Linked DNA regions of Homo sapiens: region 1 is linked to region 2. Evidence: fine-mapped expression QTL. Tissue or cell type: whole blood. Region 2 holds a variant in brackets; the other region holds the start of a gene. All regions are shown on one strand. Distances are from middle to middle.

Region 1 (2,684 bases), 85 kb before region 2:
TACAGAACTTACAAAGTATACTGATCCGCAATTTTAAAAAAATCTAAGCCTACATTCCCTTCACCTAAAAGCCTCTCAAAGCAAATTCCAGCTTAAACGCTGGGTATCTACACTTGCAGAAAAATGTTCAAAGTAATGCACTACTAAATTTAGTTAATATTTAGTCCATGTAGTGAGTCAGAATGAGATTACCACTTAATAGGAATGAAATAGTTATACAATGTTACTAACTTCGCCACCTAAAAAGAAACACTATTTCATTAGTGGCAAACCTTACTTTTGTATAGCGATGGGGGCATTTGGAGGCAGGAGGCTTCTTCAGGTCAAGGAAAGCATCTCCACTTTCTGTTTCACCCATACTTCTCCTATCCATGGCTCCTTGGTCTACAATGCTCTGCACCTGGAAGATAAATCGGCACAAAATTGTCACCGAGAACAGTAAGTTTTCAGAAATCTTGGCTGTTTCTTCAGAAGCTGAAACTTTTTAATCTCTCAAAACAGCTAGTGTTAAAAACAAGTCCCCACCCCAAAATTATGCTATAAATTAGAACTTGGAGATAGAATCATTGGTACTCAGTTCTCTTTCCTAGTATCCTAAGCATCAACATGGTAAAAAGTAGAAGGTGCCCAATTCAAGGTATATAACCTTTAAGCAGCTTTAACACAAGAGAAACCAAGATTAGTAGCTGCCACCCATGGGGATCTTTCAAGACTGGTGGGGAAGTTTCCCGGAGTGGGGGCAGGTAGAAGACTGGTTAGGCTGGGAACCCGCGAAGTCTGTTGGAAAGTGCCTGTCACTTGCCAATGGACGGCGCCAGCTGCCCCTTGTTATCCGGCGATCAGGGACTGGGGACGGGGCCCGAGCGCCCCTCGCCAGGCCAGCCGCACCTGTGGCCATGTCAGGGGCGCCGATGGCAAGGAAAGGGCGAGCACCGGCTTCAGCTCCGAAACTTGGCTTCCCCGGGCCGCGACCCCAACCCGCAGCCCCTCACGCAGGCCCGGGCCCAGCGGCCTCCTTCGGAGGAAGGGCGGAGACCGTACTCACTGAGGGGCGGCCGGCCGCAGGGAGGAGGGAGGCCGAATCTCCCGGCCCGGGCGCTTCAAGCTGGAGCTAGCGCAGGCCCGCAGCCGTCCTCCCCGGCCCGGCGGCTCGGTCCCCGCCAGCCAGCCCGCCGGCTACCCGCCGGCCGCCTTGCGGGCCTCGCGCCCCTGCCCACCCCCTGCGGGCGCCCCGGCGCCCGCGCTCACGCACGCGACCCCGGGAGCAATGCGCCCGCGCCCCTTCTACACCCGGGAGCACCGGGCGCGCGGTGCCCCGGACCCAGCCGCCACCGCCGCCGACCCTTACTCGGTGCCTCCGCCGCTCGGCGGCCCTTTGCCTCGGCCGCCGCTCCCCTCCCCGCTGCCCGCACCGGTCCCAGCGCCGCTCCCCGCAGCCTTCGCTCTCGCGCCCCCACCCCGACCGGCTTGGGCTGTCTCTCTTCAGCCGCCGTAACTGCAGCCCGGCCCTCCGCCCCTCCTCTTCGGCCCCCTCCCCCTTAATAACTCCCTCCACGCACCCTGGCCCCGGCGCCGCCTTCCCCGCCGCGCGCCCGGATGTGAGGTGGCTGCAGCGGTGCCGGGCGAAAAAGAAGCATCGCCGCGCGCTTCCCGGACGCCAGCCCCTGCGCGGGCCGGGGGGTGGGAAGGTGGTGGCGGCGAGGAGGAGGCCACGGTGGGGATAGCGGAAACCCGCTCCCGTGCGCGCAGGCGGTCGCCGTGGGCAGCCCAGAGGCCACCGCCGCCGCGTTCCCACGCGCGCTGCAGGGCAGAGCGGACGGCACTTGGGACCCGCGACTCGCGGCACGCCACTCTCCCGGAGGCGGTGGCTAGATGGGGCTGGGCTGGCGGCTAGCACGGCCTGTGGCGCGACGACCGCTGTATTTGCATGGTTCGCATAGGCAGAGAACCGTGGGGCTTCGGCAGTGGGAATTTGAGATAGGAGATTGGGGTCTTCCGAGCCTTCCCAGTGCGGGTTCGAACCTCAGCTGTTTTGCGAGTGGCGTGATCTTAGGCAAAGCTGACTTAACCTAAGTTTCGGTCGTGTTTCTAAAATGGCCTCTGTAAATCTATGAGGCTTATGCGCGAGTACTGGTTGCTGCATTAAAAGACAAACTTGTCACGATTGGCTTTGATAGCGATAAAGGCGACTAACAAATTCATTGAAATGTTGTTTCCCTCCGGTAACCTGAATCTGTCCTTAGCCTGCACAGAAAGGGGAAGTGCGAGTGGAGTTGGGGAAATGAGACGGCGAATGTCAAGTGCTTACCACGTAGTGCAGACTCAGGCTGACAGGGGGCCACAGAAATGCAAATATGTGAGCAGTGTGGGTAACTGCATCCTGGGGAGGAAGTCCTATGTGCTGGAATACCACAAGCACCCATTTCTGCCCTGTGGTACTGCGCAGCGTTGGTGTGAAGCGATACATAGGCGTGAAGTCCCGAGAACGCAATTTTCCTGGTTAAAGGACAGCAACGTCTACATTTCTTCCAAGAGGCCTACTTTGTTGGAACTTCACTTCACTTGTGAAATTAGGGTGTTGGGCAGTGAGTGACCACTAACTCAGCTCCCTTCTTGTGAATCTTGGCAACAGAAAACTTTTCGTTTGTATTACTGAATAAAGTGTGTTTCTTACAAACTGTTTT
Region 2 (2,684 bases):
CCGGCCTCTTCTGTATATTTTTTATCTAAATAGGGTTTTCATTTTGCTATAAGTATTGTAATTATTTTGATTAATATGTTGATAACCTATGGTTTTGTATCTTCCTTTTTTCCACACAGTTAATCAACACTTCCCTACATCTTAAGTATTTGTCGTAAATGTTATTTTTTAACAACTATTCATATTTTATAGGATGGCTTACCTTAATATACTTAGCCATTCTCCTATTAATAGATATTTGGATAGTTTCTGTTTGTCTCCAGTTATGCAAATGCATGTGATTTTGATGTTGAGTTTTTTGGATACTGTTTATATGGTTTTGTTTCCCAATTAGATTCAGAAGTAATAATACATAGAAATGTGAACATTAGTACACTTTTTAACTTAAGTTTATTGAGTTTATACCAAAGTAAGTCAAGCACTGTGCTAGACACTGGGTTAAGGGTCTCTGGCGTTCACCCAAACCTCCCTGCAGAAATCTCTTACGCTGCCAACACTGTCTCTTGGGAGAGTTTGAATATGTTCATTGGAGGATAGTGACCCCAGACCAACAGTCCAGTTGCCCAGTCCTGGAATGTGAAGGCATTAAGCTGTTTAGTATGATAAGCTATAGACTAATGCCTGCCTCCAATTACAGCATTCAAATTCCAGGTCTGATTCCCATCCCCTTCCCAGGCCCTAGCTCATCAGACCATTATCTGACTAGCATTAAAAGGAGATGAAGCTGGCAGCCAGGATCAGGTTGGCTGAAAGCTCAAAAAAGCCTATGCCAGCGTGGCAACTGAATTTTATGTCATTGACTCAATCTCTAAGTCCTATCCAGGAGACATTTGTTTAGAAGCAAAAGTAAAACAGTCCTTTTTGAAAGTAACAGTTTTCATTTCTGTTCATCAGTATCTAACTAGAAGCCTCAGCCCTTTGATGTAACTGATTTTATAGCATCCTCCTCCCTAAAATCACAGACCTTTTCTCTTTCCTTGGAGAGAGGAGATGTAGCTCAGGGATTCCTAATGACCTTTCAAGGTTTAAAAAACTTGTATTTTGGCCGGGCGCGGTGGCTCACGTCTGTAATCCCAGCACTGTGAGAGGCTGAGGCGGGCGGATCACTTGAGGTCAGGAGTTCGAGACCAGCTTGGCTAACATGGTGAAACCCCATCTCTATTAAAAATGCAGAAAAATCAGCCAGGGGTGGTGGCACATGCCTGTAATTCTAGCAACTTGGGAGGCTGAGGCAGGAGAATCGCTGGAACCTGGGAGGCATAGGTTGCAGTGAGCCGAGATCCCGCCACTGCACTCCAGCCTGGGCAACAGAGCGAGACTCCAACTCAAAGAAAAAAAAAAAAAAACTTAGTG[CGT/C]GTGTGTGTGTGTGTGTGTGTGTGTGTGTGTGTGTGGCCTTGAACCCCTGCTCTCTGCCAGTAGTGGGGTTCAGCTTGTCTTAAAGATGTTTCCAGCTCATCTAACCTTAGGGGAGTAGCACTTAAGTTATTTCTCTGTTGCAGAGATGGCTGAGCGATTCCATCATGTCACTGTGCTCCAGATATACTTCTGTGACTGGCAGCAGGCCTGGGAGCGGAGGGAGAGCTTGTACGCTCACCATGCCCAGGTGGAGAAACTGGCCAGGAAGATGGCCCTGCGGCGCGCCTTTACTCACTGGAAACACTGTATCCTTTCAGATACTCAGGCTGTCCATTGCCTCAGCCAGGACAGCATGAGCTCAGCAGCATGTGAAACGAAAGTCATGAGATACATGGGAAACAATTGCCAAACGATTCAAAACAGCCTTATCTCTGTTGACAGTCTTAAAATTTTTGTTTAATTGGGATTGTGTATAAAAAGAGTGCTTATATATAGTTTAAAAATAATAAAATGAACAACTATATATCTTATCACCCAACTTTCAAAATAGAACCTTCCTAGCACACCTATTTGCTCCTCCCTGACTGCGTTCTTTTTCTTTTCCCTCAGAGGTAATCCCACTTTCCTGATTCACATTTTTTGGTGTTACAATTTAAGTGCTTTTCTCTACCCACTAGGTGGTGGAAATAGCCACCACTATCTTTTTCTTGGTGATACCATCACCGTGATCATAGTTTCCATTTATTGCGCTTTTACTACGTAGCAGACATTATGCATCATCCTCTTCATCCTCATAGCAACGCTGTGGAGTAGGTGCCACTATTACCATTTTACAGACGAGGAAAGAGATTCAGAGGAGCTGAGTGTATTCTAAAGTCACAGGTCATTGGCAGAGTCAAGATTTTCAAAACCTAGGCCTTTAACTCCTGTGTACATATTCTTTTTTTTTTTTTTTGAGATGGACTCTTGCTCTGTCACCCAGGCTGGAGTGCAGTGGTACAATCTCGGCTCACTGCAATCTCCGCCTCCCAGGTTCAAGCGATTCTCCTGCCTTAGCCTCACGAGTAGCTGGGATTACAGGCATGTGCCACCACGCCTGGCTAATTTTTGTATTTTTAGTAGAGACGGGGTTTCGCCATGTTGGCCAGGCTGGTCTCGAACTCTTGACTTCAGGTGATCCACCCACCTCAGCCTCCCGAAGTGCTGGGATTACAGGCATGAGCCAGCGTACCCAGCCTCTTTTTTTTTTTTGAGACAGAGTCTCGCTCTGTCACCCAGGCTGGATTGCAGTGGTGCCATCTCAGCTTACCGCAACCTCTGCCTCCCGG

What was found. PIP is the estimated chance that this variant, and not a neighbour inherited with it, causes the effect.
Region 1: EIF4ENIF1 starts here. The variant in region 2 is fine-mapped to the expression of EIF4ENIF1 in whole blood (INTERVAL, PIP 0.94).

Annotation. Positions count from the first base shown.
Region 1 is chr22:31,488,346-31,491,029 of GRCh38, forward strand. It overlaps EIF4ENIF1 (eukaryotic translation initiation factor 4E nuclear import factor 1), which reads right to left and starts at 1,497. Exons shown (of 19, transcript NM_019843.4): 1 at 1,349-1,497; 2 at 278-400. The coding sequence starts at 373. RefSeq lists enhancers at 806-1,429, 1,430-2,052, 2,452-2,511 and silencers at 882-1,171, 1,252-1,901.
Region 2 is chr22:31,573,732-31,576,415 of GRCh38, forward strand. SFI1 (SFI1 centrin binding protein) reads left to right here. Exons shown (of 33, transcript NM_001007467.3): 10 at 1,500-1,661. Among named protein-coding and RNA genes, the nearest start is that of MIR7109, 46 kb to the right of the region's middle. The variant CGT/C (reference allele first, on the strand shown) is at 1,354.